Regions from separate parts of the Homo sapiens genome. Here region 2 is linked to region 1. The links come from fine-mapping of genetic effects on gene expression. A gene starts in region 1. The other region holds a variant in brackets. All regions are shown on one strand. Distances are between the middles of the regions.

Region 1 (8,341 bases):
CTGTAATGTGCCACCCAGATCCCATTCAGGACTGAAAGGCTTATTCCCCGCGCTGTGGCACAGTCCTCAGCCATCAGCCCCCTCCATGTATTGCCTTGGCTGAGAGAGCTGCAGCACCCAAGGCTCTATGCCCTTCCCCAGGGCAACCTGCCCCCAGTCACTGGCCCATTCAGGGATACAAAAGCCTAGTATCCTTACCTTCAAGTGAGACAACTTTGAGGGGCCTTGTCAGCTTCTGAGTTTCCAGTCAGGTTAGTTAAGGTCTGTCATTGGAACTATCACAACCCAATTTCTCTACTCAATCCTGTTTCTGTTCCTTCTTTTTCACAGGTGTCAATCTCAAAAGCACTTCCTAATAAATACGCTACATATCCTATCCTCATCTCCATCTCAGAGTCTGCTTTTCTCAGGCAACCAAACCAGCCATAGCTGCCAACAACTTCCCTTGGAAGCTTATGCAAGCTGCTAGAAAAGCTCAGTAATCAGTGAACCCTCACAACCTGTCATCAGGTTACAAATGGATTATACCACCATTTATTTACTCTCAGGTCATCACCCAAAGACGTTTTCAAAAAATTCATGCTGATCTTTTGAAAGCGTATTTTCTCAAATTCCTACACATACAGAGATCCTGATCCTGATTTACACATGGACAGAAGCCAAAGATCAAAATGGAAATTCTTGCTAGGCAAAAGGTTGGGGAAGCCTGAAAAGCAGGAATAAGAATCAAACAAACATGAAGATTTTATTAAACTACCTGCAAATAGCAAACAGATGCCAAAATATTTGGGCAGACCACCACAAGACATTGTGTGACCCCAAAAACACAGGGCACTGACACATGGTCTGTCCCTGGTGGTAGTTCTGCCTCTTGACTTCTGAGCAGATAGAGGAAGTGGCAGGATCTCTCCTTTCTCTCTCACTCTCTGGTCTTCTCTGCAATTCTCTTTCTCCAAGGCAGAGGCTTGGGGAATCCAAAAGACCTGGATGCCAATTCTAGACTCATCACATACCAGTTGTGTGAACTTAAACAAGTTATTAACCTCTCTGAGTCTCATTTTCCTTATCCAAGAAAAGAGAGATAAAGAAAACTTCTGCAGTGCAGTTGGCAGGAATAAAAACATTAATGAACATCACTTACGGAGCCACGCAGAGCATGCCACAGCACAGTGCTTAACATTCTCACCTGAGCTGCACACAGGAATTAACTGGGGAGCTTCAAAAAAGATACTGAAGCCTGGAGGGCAACCCCAAAGAGTCTGATATCATCAATTTGGGGTGCTGAAGCATCACAAAGGTTTAAAGCTCTCCAGGTGATTCCAAAGTGCAGCCAAGATTGCTAACTATTGTTCTATGCAGATTATTTCATTTAAGCCAGATACTACCCTAAGAGTTCAGTCCAATTATCCCCCTTCACCCTCCTTCCCTCCTTTCTACAGACAAGCGGATTGAGGTTTAGAAAGGTTAGAAGATTATGCAAGGGTACACAGCTAGCAAGGGGCAAAGCTGAGATTTAAGTTCACACAGTATGACTCCCAGGACCTAACACATCATGGCCACACTTCTATGCTACCACTCCAGGTCCTGAATGTGAACGAACATCTAGCATGGTCTCTAGCATGCAGAACATGCTCCAAATTTGAGAGCTAAGTTTGTTTATCATTTGTTAGCATCCCTCCTCTCCATTCCTTGCTCTTCACAAGCCCCAGCCCAAAATATCACTTGGAGTTCAGTAGAAGTGAGCAATGGATAAGATTTAGAAGCATAGTTAGAATGGATCCAGAAAAAAATAAATGTTCCTTTTTCCTTCTTTTCCCCTTCCTAGATCCCCACCATAAGCATACATTTCTTGTATTAGTCTGTTCTCATGCTGCTAATAAAGACATACCTGAGACTGGGTAATTTATAAAGGAAAGAGGTCCAACTGACTCACAGTTCCACATGGCTGGGGAGGCCTCACAATAATGGCAGAAGGTGGATGAGGAGCAGTCACGTCTTACATGGCAGCAGGCAAGAGAGAACTTGTGTAGGGGAACTCTCCTTTATAAAACCATCAGATGTTGTGAGACTTATTCACTATCACAGAACAGCATGGGAAAGACCTGCCCCCATGATTAATTACATTTCATCAGTTCCCTCCCATGACCACATGGGAATTATAGGAGCTACATTCAAGATGAGACTTGGGTGGGGACAGAACCAAACCATATCACTTGTTTTACATTTAAAGTCTTTTAAAATAATTATTACATATACAACATTGAAAATATCAGAAACCAAGGAGATATTTTTCTGCCATCCCTTCTCAAGTCTAAGTGAATGTTTTCATTTGCCTATGTCAGCTTCTGAGCCTTGTCCATGAGAATCTATGATTTTTATGTTTATATTGCCATAATATAATTATATATTTAAAATAGTCATCCACATGATGTCATATATTTTCAGAAGATTTGTCCTATAACCCAATTAAGCAGCCTGGTACAGCTCTGTAGATAATGGAGGTAATTTTACCACTAACTTAGCCTAAGATATTTTCATTAAAGGTTTCCCTTTTAAGGAAAAAATGTACTTAGCCTGGTTACTCTGAAAGCTGATATAAAAATGTATAAGCCTGTAGAGGTCACACGACATGATGTTTGCCTTTCCTTATCTGTTGTATGCCCCTCAGTGCCCACATGCTTCATCCCCTCACCCCCATGCTTGGCACAGAGTAGGAGCGCAAAAACTATTTGACGCATGAACAAATGATACTTTTCTTGGTTGTATGGTGAAATTACAAAATAGAATTTCTCGGGAACTGGGACAGAAGACTCCAAAGTTAGGCCTGAGAACAGGGTAGGGTGGACACCAGCAAAGCAATCAGGAAAGGCAACCGGAAACCCCATCGTAAAGGCCAGCTACAGTGGCTGAGAGGAAACGTGTGGTTTCCTGAATTGCACTTGTTCAAAACCTTCAACCTTAAAGCATGATGTATGTAAACCTTATCAAGGACCCACAGCTGGCCCAACAGTCACACTTTGGGGTTGTTTTCTTTAAAAGGTATTTGTAATCTTAGGGTTCCTAGGATAAATACGGAGTTGTAAGCCACTGTAGCATGAAAATAAAGCTGCAAAGAATTGAAGTAGGTATGCTTCAGAAGAACAACCCATGCAATATTTTTAGAGGAAGGATTCTTAAGCTAGTGTCCATTGGGTCTCCTCTGGGTACCATAGAAGGGCTTCAGGAAATGGTGAACAGCCTGAGATTGATGTAAAGTGTGTGTGTGTGTGTCTGCGTGTGTGTCTGTGTGTGTGTGCCTGTGTGTGTGTGTGTGTCTGTCTGTCTATGGAGGAGACCACAGCTTTCATCAAATTCTCATGTCTTTTGGTTATGGGGCCTGCTCTTCCTTTCACTTCATTAAGTCGAGTGGGGCTCTTCTAAACCCATTCTTATGTGCTAGGGGCTAGAGATGGGAATGAGAGAGAGTAGGTAGAAGACAAGGGAACTAACTCTATACAAGGCCTTCTATTGAGTCAATATAAGTGAAAGGCTTAGAGAGTGTCCAACCTGCATCAGGACCAATAAATATTAGCTCTTATTATTATTATTACACTATGCCAAAGCACTTCAAGTTTTCTCAACCTCACAACAACCCCACAAGTTCAGCATAAGTCTCATATTCCATTAGGTTGAACAACTAACCCAGGGTCACACAGCCAGTGGTGGAGTTCAGAACTATCTAATTCCAAGCTTAGATTCTTCTTTTCCACCCTGTGGCCTGAATTACTGGCCAGACTTTCAGTCTGGAGGCAGCCTCTCTGTCTACCCTTCAGGCTTTCACATCTAAATCCCAAGGGTCTTGCTCTTTCCCTGAGTCTGTCCATCAGAACTGGCATGAGGCCTAAAAATGAGCCGTTTCAAGCCCAGGCATCATCTACTCACTTACATAACAAAACCTTAGTCATCCCACTGAGATTCCACACTCAAAGCCAATTTCTCTCACAGGGCATCGAATGCTAGTTAAAGATATAAAATCACGCTTATCACAATTAACTCCCTTGCCTTTATGATGCAGCCAAGTCAAAGCCCAAACAGGAATAAATTTTTTCTAGTAGCCACAAATCAGAGGAGTGAGAAAGCTCTATGCCAAATCTACCATTTTCTGATTTCAAAATCCATGCTAAAAACTGCAGTTAAACATCAGCTACCAAAACACCCTTCTATCAAATAAGAATCATGGTGATTGCATGAATTGAGCACTTTCTATGTACTTGCTCTTTACGTGTTATTTCTATGCCTCAGAAGAGCCAAGCAGGCCAGATAGATGTTACTGCTTGAGAGGCTAAGCAAGTCCCATAAGGTCACACACACAGTGAGGAGCAGAACCTGGACTCAAACCCAGGCCTATCTGATGACAGCAACAGTGCTGCTAACCATGCCCTTCCCCCCAGCTCTCTACAGTCAATGTGATTCATGGCACCCAGGACCAACACCGGCTCTTGGCTTTCCCACAAACCACTTCCCTGAAATCTGGACAACTTCTTGGGAGGAGGAGTCATGGGAACAGGACAGATGAACTCCAAAATAGAAGATCGGGTGAGAGGTCCGGCTCTGCTACTTCTGTAGCTCTGTCACCACGGGCAGATCACTTAACTTTCCAAGGCCTCAGTTTCCTCGCCTATGCAATGGAGATGACCGTGAATGCCCCAAATTGCGCTGATCTAGTAGAGAAGAGGAGCTAAGGCTCAGGGGCTTTCCAGACGTGAGTTATCTTTACCTTTCCTTGACTAGCTAATTCAAGACAACTAGGTAGAAGCCCTTTCTCAGCCTCCCCTCTTCGCTCATCTTTCGAGTTCTTGGCCACCCCAGTTCAAACACCAGCACCATTGCCCTCCTCTCAGGTGGCTGCTGCTTAATTTCCCCTCCACTTTAGTAGTTCTTCTCTTGCCTCGCTAGAAGGACTGGTGTTGGGTGCTTGGAATTCTGGCTATTTTCCTCCTGCCGTTCCGACTCGGCACCAGAGTCTGTCTCTACTGAGAACGCAGCGCGTCAGGGCCGAGCTCTTCACTGGCCTGCTCCGCGCTCTTCAATGCCAGCGCCAGGCGCTCACCCTGCAGAGCGTCCCGCCTCTCAAAGAGGGGTGTGACCCGCGAGTTTAGATAGGAGGTTCCTGCCGTGGGGAACACCCCGCCGCCCTCGGAGCTTTTTCTGTGGCGCAGCTTCTCCGCCCGAGCCGCGCGCGGAGCTGCCGGGGGCTCCTTAGCACCCGGGCGCCGGGGCCCTCGCCCTTCCGCAGCCTTCACTCCAGCCCTCTGCTCCCGCACGCCATGAAGTCGCCGTTCTACCGCTGCCAGAACACCACCTCTGTGGAAAAAGGCAACTCGGCGGTGATGGGCGGGGTGCTCTTCAGCACCGGCCTCCTGGGCAACCTGCTGGCCCTGGGGCTGCTGGCGCGCTCGGGGCTGGGGTGGTGCTCGCGGCGTCCACTGCGCCCGCTGCCCTCGGTCTTCTACATGCTGGTGTGTGGCCTGACGGTCACCGACTTGCTGGGCAAGTGCCTCCTAAGCCCGGTGGTGCTGGCTGCCTACGCTCAGAACCGGAGTCTGCGGGTGCTTGCGCCCGCATTGGACAACTCGTTGTGCCAAGCCTTCGCCTTCTTCATGTCCTTCTTTGGGCTCTCCTCGACACTGCAACTCCTGGCCATGGCACTGGAGTGCTGGCTCTCCCTAGGGCACCCTTTCTTCTACCGACGGCACATCACCCTGCGCCTGGGCGCACTGGTGGCCCCGGTGGTGAGCGCCTTCTCCCTGGCTTTCTGCGCGCTACCTTTCATGGGCTTCGGGAAGTTCGTGCAGTACTGCCCCGGCACCTGGTGCTTTATCCAGATGGTCCACGAGGAGGGCTCGCTGTCGGTGCTGGGGTACTCTGTGCTCTACTCCAGCCTCATGGCGCTGCTGGTCCTCGCCACCGTGCTGTGCAACCTCGGCGCCATGCGCAACCTCTATGCGATGCACCGGCGGCTGCAGCGGCACCCGCGCTCCTGCACCAGGGACTGTGCCGAGCCGCGCGCGGACGGGAGGGAAGCGTCCCCTCAGCCCCTGGAGGAGCTGGATCACCTCCTGCTGCTGGCGCTGATGACCGTGCTCTTCACTATGTGTTCTCTGCCCGTAATTGTGAGTCCCCGGGCCCCGAGGCAGCAGGGCACTGAGACTGTCCGGCCGCGGATGCGGGGCGGGAAGGGTGGAGCGGATCGGGATGGACGCGGCGCCAGGCGAGCTGCGCCCTGGGCCAGGAAGGTTTGCTGCTGAGTTCCCCAAATTGGATTCCTTCCACAGCCCCGAGATATAACTCAGTTTGCGGAGCGAAATGAGGGAAAGTTAGAGAAAGGAAGGGAAAGGCTGAGCCCGGCGGTGTCTCCCTAGCCCAGCAAAACCCTCTCCATGTGGCAGAACTCCCTCCTCTCTGCTTCCTTCTGGGGAGATCTCGAGGTCATTTTTGCGCCTTAGGAGGAGCAGAACTTAGTTTCTCCTTGGCAACAGGAGTCTTCTACTTCCCGACGGCTGGGTGATGTTTTATTTTGTTAGACCTGCTCATGACTTCAGTGGTATCAGAAATGGGCGAATGGCGTCTGGGACGATCTTCTCCCCGGTGTTGGCATAGAAAGGGAAAAAGAGGTTTAAGCCAGCCAGAGTGATTTGCAGATGCATAGTTTTAATTTTGAAAAACGCGTGCGTAAACTTTGAGACGCCACGGCTGCTGTTTCTGGTGCTGCATCCGCCAGGGATTGTGGCGATGGAGGCCGAGGCTCTTTGTATGTTTTAGCTGCTGGTGTCGTTTTGACAACCTGACTTGACGGGTTTTGAGTGTATCTTGGCAAGTGAGGTGACATGAAAGCCATTATCTCCGGTTTCAATTTGGTAATGAGGATAGCGATGGAAATGAAATTATCTCCTCATTTTGAAGGCATTTGTTCCTGGAGTCCCCGCCAAGACACCTGGGAGTAGGTGAGGCTTGAGGAAACATTTTCAGTGCTGCTCCTCTCCTTTCTCCCAAGGTACCTGTTCAACAAAAACAATACTTACAGAAATTCCATTGCCAATCCCACGTTCTCGAAATCCTGAGACTTCTGTGAATAGGAAAGTTGTTAAATTTCTTCTCAGAATGTAGCCATTTTGGATATTACTTTCAATGGTGAATGAAAGGGAAATACAAAGCGATTTTCCTTTAAATGAAGGCCTTACTGCTTGCGGAAAAAGAAGTCTGGGGCATCAGCATGCAGGGGTGGGAACAGTATGCCCCCAAAATAAATAAACAAATACATAAATCTATATCTATCTAAATGTAGATATAGGCGCAGATGACATATAGCAGTGGTCTTCAGAATCACCAGCTCAGAATCACCAGCAAGGCTTCTAGAAAAAAAGATGGCTGGACCCCATTCCCCAGAGTTTCTAATTCAGACATTTTTAAAGAATTTTCATTCTTAACAAGTTCCCAGGTGATATGCAAGCTCAGATTCAGGGTTCACATTTGTAGAATCACACTCTAAAACAGGAGTTAGCAAACCACAGCTCACAGGCCAAATCTTTCCTGGCCACTGTTTTACATCTCCCTGGAGTTAAGAATAATTCTTACAAATGAATCTCTGCAATCAATTTGATGAGACCCAAGAGTTTTGAGCTTCAATTGAGCCAAATACTATTTCAAGAAAAATACTGTTCCAAGAAAACGTTTTATTCTTCTCCTTAGTAGATACATATTACAAAAAAATTGTACTCAGCCGGGAGCGGTGACTCACGCCTGTAATCACAGCACTTTGGGAGGCCGAGGCGGGCAGATCATGAGGTCAAGAGATCGAGACCATCCTGGCCAACATGGTGAAACCCCGTCTCTAAAAATACAAAAATTACCTGGGCGTGGTGGCATGCACTTGTAGTCCCAGCTTCTCAGGAGGCTGAGGCAGGAGAATCGCTTGAACCTGGGAGGCAGAGGTTGCAGTGAGCCAAGACTGTGTCACTGCACTCCAGCCTGGGCGACAGAGCAAGACTCCATCTAAAAAAAAAATTGTACTCAATTATTAATACATTTTGAATTCCATCAAAAAATTGTGGAAATGTGTTTTCTCCCATGTTATATTAGTACCTATCAAATATTTATGATTTTGTCTCTTGGCCATAAAACCTAAAATAGTTACTATCTGGTCCTTTATACAATCTTTAGGAGCTCCTATTGTAAAGTTGGGGCCTCACTTATCTATGCTGTGACAAAGTAGACAGTAGCCAAATGCATGGAAATTTTGACCTGAGTTTGAATGTTTTAGTCAGACCAATGCAGAAAGCAGCATCATACAGTGGAAAGAACA
Region 2 (8,341 bases), 73 kb before region 1:
CATTGATTTAATATCCAGTTTCAGTTCCTGTATCAAATGTCAGAGTAAAATAAATCTTTAATGTCATGAGTAATCTCTAGACTGATGAAATAGCAAATCGAATGTTGAGTCAATAAGCAGGAAACTTTGGCTTTGATATTACACTTTTACTCATTTGGAAGTAAAAAAGATACTTTAAAATGAAAAGTAGTCACACACATTAAGGGAAAGCATGAGATATAATGCAGACTGTCGAAGATAAGACGTGCACATGCGTATTTTTATTACATGTGTTTAGCATTTTGGTTGCAACTACCTAAAGTTGTTATTTCTTTGAGTATTAAGAAGGCTTTGCACCTCACACTGTGCATGCTCACATACCAAACATTTGTGCAAAATAAGGCTTCACTTTCCACTTGAAAACTCTAGCAGGGTCAAGATGTTAAAGAGTTCCAACCTAGATCTTGTTATCCAGGAAAAAGGGAAGAAATGCAAGCAGCTTACAAAGATAATATTTATTGGAGAATATGCCTCATTGTTAATTAATATGAGTTTCTATAAAACATAAACTCTAATAATTTAGTGAGTTAATATCATATGCTGGACACTGTGCTGTCTGTTTAGATTTTCTAGTTTCCTACTTCTTATTTTAGCAATGGCTTATTTAGTACCACTAATTAATCTATATTTTATAAGATCTCACTCCACTTATTCTGTGATATCTCCTGGTCTCTGATTTCTTTCCAAATGACTGAATGTATACAGGCATACTTTGTTTTATTGTGTTTCACAGATACTGGATTTTTTACAAATTGAAGGTTCGTGGCAATTATGCACCAAGCAAGTCTATCAGGGCCATTTTTTCCAACAGCATGTGCTCACTTTGTAAGTCTGTGTCACTTATTGGTAATTCTCACAACATTTCAAACTTTTTCATTTTTATTATCTCTGTTATGGTGATCTATGATCAGTTATCTTTGATTTACTATTGTAGATGTGTTGGGGCTCATTAACTGCACCTGAACTTAATCGATAAATGTGTGTGATCTGACTTCCCCACTGACTAACCATTCTATCTCTCTCTCTCTCCTCCAGCCTCCCTAGTCCCTGAGACACAAGAATATTGCAGTTAGGCCAATTAATAACCCAACAACGGCCTCTGAGTATTCACGTGAAAGGGAGAGTTGCACCCTGATTAGTCAGCAGCCATCAACATGGAGGCAAAACCCTCCACCAGCAAGAAGATTATGACTCACTGAAGGCTCAGGTGATTGTTAGTGTTTTTTAGCAATAAAATATTTTAAATTAAGGTATGTCCATTGGTTTAAGATATAATACTATTGCACACTTAATGGACTACAGTATAGTGTCAACATAACTTTTACATGCACTAAGAAAGCAGAAATTTCATGTGACTCATTTTATTGCAATATTTGCTTTATTGTGGTGGTCTAGAACTGAACCCATAATATCTCAGATATTCCTGTACTTTAGTGAGCACTTTATCTTTTTTGTTTAGCGTAATCAAGTATAAAGCAAACACTTTATCTTAACCATTAATTTCATCCAGCAGCATCTAAGACCAAGACACTGGCCAAATCATGTTCTTTTTTTCCATTTAAAAATGCAAAATGGGCTGGGAGCGGTGGCTCACACCTGTAATCCCAGCACTTTGGGAGGAGGGGGGAGCAGATCACAAGGTCAGGAGTTCGAGACCAGCCTGGCCAATATGGTGAAACCTTGTCTCTACTAAAAATACAAAAATCAGCTGGGCGTGGTGGCACATGCCTATAGTCTCAGCTACTTGGGAGGCTGAGGCAGGAGAATTGCTTGAACCCAGGAGGCGGAGGTTGCAGTGAGCCGAGATCGTGCCGCTGCACTCCAGCCTGGGTGGCAGAGCAGGACTCCGTCTCAAAAAAAAAAAAAGAAACAAAAGGAAAATGAAGTCATAATTTTTATCCCATCTCTGTCCACTGAAAAGGCCTAGAGGCAACAATCAACCCATTGAAATAAGAACAATTAGCACTGTCAATATCATTCCTCACTAAAAGGAGTCAGAACTCTTTGGGTAAACGTCAGATTCTGAGTCTGAGGTAGAAAGGCACAAGAAGCTGGAACATCTTATCACGTTGGAAAGAAAGAAAACAATCAAAGAATATTGAAGACAAATTGAAAAGTGTCCTACTGATTAAAAATGGCCCAATTTGAGCATCAAAAATAATTTGAGGTAGATTTGAAAAGCATCATGTTGGAATCCATAAGTCTATGATGATCTATCTATATATATGTATGTATATGTTTGTGTGTATACATATATATACACACATACACACACACATATATATACACACATAGATACATTAAAATTGATAGTAGTTGCGCATGGTGGTGCACGCCTGTAATCCCAGCTACTTGGGAGGCTGAGGCAAGAGAATCGCTTGAACCAGGGAGGCAGAGGTTGCAGTGAGCTGAGATCACACCACTGCACTCCAGCCTGGGTGACAGAGCGAGACTCCAACTCAAAAAAAAAAAAATTTGATGGTCACCTTCGGAAATTGTTAGAACACTAACTCATTAATATGAAGTGATAAATAAAAGGATAGAAGCAAGCGTTTATTCTGTCTTTCCTTTATGACTAAATTCCAGTAATACATGCAGAAAGAATTAATTAAAAATGATTAAAATATTACCCATTAATAACTCCTAATTAAAACATTACCCATTTATAATACCTAATGAAATAATGAATATTACCACTTAGTAGGTGAAAGGTTGGTTTGGAACACTATGATGAATAAATTAGCCTAACAACTCTCAGATCTACGGATCAATCTTAACATCTCAAAGACAAAGACAATGCATTATGTTCTTCCTACTGCCATGCAACAGGCACTACATGGCACCATCTATGAACCTAAATCACAAATCCAGAATTCGGATGAGTTTACAGGACAAACGACTTGCAGGGGGCACTGTTACAGATTAAAAGAAATTTTAGGAACTCTAACAACAAAATGCACTGTGTGAACCTTGTTTGGATCCTGATTCAAACCAACCAATTATAAAAAGACATTAATGAGACAATTTGGAAATTTGAATGATGATATTAAGTCTAATAGATATTGAGGAAATTAAGAATATGTTTTCATATATTTAGTTTTAGGAAAATCACATTGTGGTTATATTAAACAAAAGAGATCCTTGCCTCCACTGAGACATATACTGGCGTCTTAATGAAAGAAATGATATATCCGGGTTTTACTTAAAATAATCTAGTGGGGTGTGAGAAGTGTAAAGTCAGTTGTTGCATAATATGGGGGGTTGTTATACTGCTTTCTCTATTTTTTGTGTAAGTTTGAACGTTTCCATAAGAAAAAGTTTCAAAGGTGACAAAATATCACTCCATTCATTTGTTCTTTTGAAAAACACTAGGGTTTGCACTAGTGTGCTGGGCACCCCAACATATTACATAACTCACATTTATTTTTGGTGAAGGAAAAATATCATTAAATACTGTGATTAAAAATAGAGATAAAAAATAAAGCACCAGGACACAGACCAAGCAAATAGTTATGATTGGGGAATGGCTTACGTGGGTTGGAGAAAGTTTTGTCAGAGAGATGACATTTGCACTCCATCAGCTAACTCACTTGAGGCTGGCTTCAATGGGCAGGCGTTCTCTAAAACTACATCAGGAAAAAGCAACCTATCTCATAAGGACTTCACAAGCATTTGGTTTTCTCTTCTTGTTACAATATGTATAATTTGTTTTCTGGGAAAGGTGCACATAGATCTGCATGTGGTTAGCAAATTTAAAAAAAGTAAATGGTTAAAAGTTGCTAATCTCATTTGTTTTCCAAAAGAAAGGGGAAAATAATTCACTTCATTGTAAATATTAAGGGAATTTTGAGCCTATAAAGGGATTTTAGGTAAGGGTTTCAAAATTTAGAAGGTATTTTTTTCCAAATTAAGGGAAAAAAGATACAACTACAGTCATGCATAACTTAACAACATGGATACATTCTAAGAAATGCATCATTAGCAATTTTCTTCATTGTGCAAACATCATAGGGTATACTTACACAAGTCTGGATGGTATATCTTGCTACACCCTAGGTTATACAATATAGCCTGATGACAAAAAAAGGAAACTGAGGCAAAATTAATATTGAGAGTTTATTTGGGCCAAGGTTGAGGAC[T/G]GCAGCCCCAGAAACTCTGGGAAGTGCTCATTTCAGCCCTCCTTACAAGCTGGTTTTTAAAAGGCAAAAGGGCACAAGGAGTGAGCTGATAGAAAACTGTTTGAATAGGAATTCTCACTGGTTTACAGAAATAACATCGATTAGTAACTTGCTACACATTGTTGAACTACAGAGTATGAGTTTCAGCTTCTGACATGTGGCATTTCATGGCTACATGGCATCAGATAGTCTAGCACCCACATAGCGAAGTCTTCAAGAGGTAATTATTTAGCTCAAAGGGTGAGTGAGATGAGACTGCTGTCACATTTTAATGTCTCTCTGGGCCTGATAATTTAAAAGGGGCTCATATTCCTCAGATAAAAATTTCTTTTCTCTCTCAATCTGATTGTTATTATTAGGCTACAAACTGTACAGCATGTGGCCATACTGAATACTGTAGCCAATGGTAACACAATGGTAAGTATTTGTATATATAAACATAAAGAAGGTACAGTAAAAATATGGTATTATTTTCTTACAGGATGACCACCATACATATGGTTCCTTGTTAACAGAAACATCATCAAGCAATGTGTGGCTATATTTCAAACCTAGATTGCTATCTATATTGACATTTATATATAGTAAATGCCATAAATGTCTTTGAAGGAAAAAATAGTATGCATTCCTTCTAAAATTAGTTTAGATATGGTGAGGCCTTTTCCTGAGAGTAATGGTTTTATTTTTCTTTGACTCCAGTGGTAAATGAACAGCATTGGCTATCTCTCCACAGGGCCACCAACTACAAAGGAACTGGAAGACCTCTGAAATTTGGGACTACGGCAGATTTCATAATTTGCCTTGCGCATTTGGGAACTGTTAGTAAATCTTCTTTCTCATCACTGACATCAGTATGTTTTTGCTCCAAATTTGTATTTAGTGAAGGCTGAACTCCTAATTGTCATTGCCCCATAGTAAAGCATAGTTTTGCCTGACTGACAGACTAATGAAGCTCAAGTTACTGGGAACGGAGGTTTTACGAGGTTGCCCTGAGATTGATCCCACTGAGCTGGGAGTCCAGAGGGTCCCATGAAGGCTACTCTGCTTCATGACCTCAGGAGAGTTGATGCAAAGAAGATAGAGCAGCTGAATTTGGTTCAAAGCCAACCTGGCAGTGGTAAGAGTATTAATATACAAGACAAGTGTTTACAGATGAAGATGTTGTGGAATAGGATGGGAGGAAGTAGGATTAACTAGTACAATTATTCATCAAGTCTAAATCATTATAGCATCTTTGAATCAGAAGACAATGGAGAGTTATTTAATTAGGACTCCCATTGAATCAAGAACTTCCTCTTCCAGATTCCTAAAAAGTGGTTATCTATTTGGAAGACCACCAAACAAATAGAGCACAAGAAATAAATGATGAATTCTCCTCATTTCCCTTAAGCTTTTATAAAAAATATATTTTGTAACAAACATACTGTACATATCCTGAGTGTGGCTGAAGACAGGTATGAGCCACTGCACCTGGCTCAAAAGCAGGAACTTTTACTCATTACTAATGGGAATGCCAAATTGTATAGCAACTTTGGAAGAATGTTTGGAAGTTTCTTACCAAACTAAACATACTCTTTGATATGGTTTGGCTGTGTCCCCACCCAAATCTCATCTTGAATTGTAGTTTCCATAATCCCCACATGTTGTGAGAGGGACCCAGTGAGAGGTAACTGAATCATGGTGGTGGTTACCCCCATGTTTTTCTCATGATAGTGAGCGAGTTCTCATGAGATCTGATGGTTTTATAAGCAGCTTTTCCCCTTTGCACAACACTTCTCCTTCCTGCTACCATGTGAAGAAGAACATTTTGCCTCTCCTTTCACCATGATTCTAAGTCTCCTGAGGCTTCCTAGCCCTGTGGAACTTGGAGTCAATTAAACCTCTTTCCTTTATAACTTACCTAGTCTTAGGCAGTTCTTAGGCAATTTAGTAATACACTAAATTGGTACCGAGGGAGTGAGGCACTGCTAAAAGGATAACCAAAAAATTCCAAAGTGACTTTGGAATGGGGTCACAGGCAGAGACTGAAACAATTTGGAGGGTTCAGAAGACAACAAGAAAATGTGAGAAAGTTTGGAACTTCCTAGAGACTTAGAGATCTCAGAAGACAGGAACATGTGGGAAAGTTTGGACCTTCCTAGAGACTTGTTGAATGGTTTTGACCAAAATGCTGATAGCGATATTGACAATTAAGTCCAGCCTGAGGTAGTAGCAGATGGAGATGAGGAACTTCTTGGTAACTGGAGCAAAGGTTACATTTGCTTTGCTTTAAGAAAGAGACTGGCGGCATTTTGCCCCTGTCCTAGAGATCTGTGAAATTTTGAACTTGAGAGAGATGATTTAGGGTATATAGTAGAAAAAATTTCTAAGCAGCAAAGCATTCAAGAGGAAGCAGAACATACAAGTTTGAAAATTTGCAGCCTGATGAGGTGATGAAAAAGAAAAGCCCATTTTCTGGGGAAAAATTCAAGCCCACTGTAGAAATTTGCATAAGTAACAAGGAGCCAAATGTTAATCACCAAGACAATGGGGCAAATGTCTCTGGGGCATGTCAGAGAACTTCACCCCAGCCCCTCCCGTCACAGATGTGGATCCCTAGGAGGGAAAAATGGTTTCATGGGCCCCCATGCTCTGTGCAGCCTCAGGACATGGTGCCCTGCATCCCAGCTGCTTTAGTTCCAGCTGTGGCTAAAAGGGGCCAAGGTACAGCTCAAGCCATTGCTTCAGAGGGTGCAAGCTCAAGCCTTGGCTGCTTGCATGTGGTGCTGGGCCTCTGAGTGCACAGAAGTCAAGAACTGAGGTTGGGGAACCTCTGCCTAGATTTCAGAAAATGTATGGAAACACCTGGATGTCCAGGCAGAAGTTTTCTGCAGGGGAGGAGCCCTCATGGAGAACCTCTGCTAGGGCAAAGGGAAATATGGGTTTGGCGCCCCCACACAGAGTCCCCACTGGGGCACTGCATAGTGGAGCTGTGAGAAGAGGGCCACTGTCCTTCAGACCCCAGAATGGTAGATCAACTGACAGCTTGCACTATGTACCTGGAAAAGCCACAGACACTCAACACCAGCCATGAAAGCAGCCAGGAGGAGGGCTGTACCCTGCAAAGCCACAGGGTGGAGGTATCCAAGGCCATAGGAGCCCACCTCTTGCTTCAGTGTGACCTGGATGTGAGTCATGGAGTCAAAGGAGATCATTTTGGAACTTGAAGGTTTAATGACTGCCCTATTGGGTTTTGGACTTGCAGGGGCCTGTAGCTCCTTTGCTTTGACCAATTTCTCCCATTTGGAATGGGTATATTTACCCAATTCCCATACTCCCATTTTGTCTAGGAAGTAACTAACTTGCTTTCGATTTTACAGGCTCCTCCTAGGTGAAAGAGACTTGCCTTGTCTCAGATGAGACTTTGGACTTGGACTTTTGGGTTAATGCTGGAATGAGCTAAGACTTTGGGGGATTTTGGAAAAGCATGATTGTGTTTTGAAAAGTGAGGACATGAGATTTGGGAGGGGTCAGAGTAGAATGATATGGTTTGTCTGTGTCCCCAACCAAAACTCATCTTGAATTTTACTTCCCATAACCCCTACATGTCATGGGAGGGACCCAATAGGAGGTAACTGAATCATGGGGGTGACTACCCCCATGCTGTTCTCATGATAGTGAGTTCTCATGAGATCCATGGTTTTATAAGGGGCTTTTCCCCTTTGCTTAGCACTTCTCCTTCCTGCCACCATGTGAAGAAGGATGTATTTGCTTCCCCTTCTGCCATGATTCTAAGTTTTCTGAGGCCTCCCCAGCCATGCAGAACTATGAGTCAATTAAACCTCTTTCCTTTATAAATTACCCAGTCTCAGGCAGTTCTTTATAGCAGCATGAGAACAGCCTAATATACTCCTATACTGTTAGCCAGTAATTGTGCTCCTTGGTATTTACCCAAAGGAGTTGAAAACATTTGTACACAGAAAAACCTACACATCAATGTTTATTGCATCTTTATTCACAATTGGCAAAACTTGGAAACAAACAAGATGCCCTTCAATAGGTGAAAAGATAAACTGTGGTACCTCCAAACAATGGAATATTATTTAATGATAAAAAGAAATGGGCTATCAAGGTACAAAAAAGAC

The links.
Region 2: its variant is fine-mapped to the expression of PTGDR in whole blood (TOPMed, PIP above 0.99).

What each region holds. Positions count from the first base shown.
Region 1 is chr14:52,262,509-52,270,849 of GRCh38, forward strand. It overlaps PTGDR (prostaglandin D2 receptor), which reads left to right and starts at 5,190. Exons shown (of 2, transcript NM_000953.3): 1 at 5,190-6,152. The coding sequence starts at 5,307.
Region 2 is chr14:52,189,397-52,197,737 of GRCh38, forward strand. No RefSeq gene overlaps it. Among named protein-coding and RNA genes, the nearest start is that of LINC02319, 68 kb to the left of the region's middle. The variant T/G (reference allele first, on the strand shown) is at 4,179.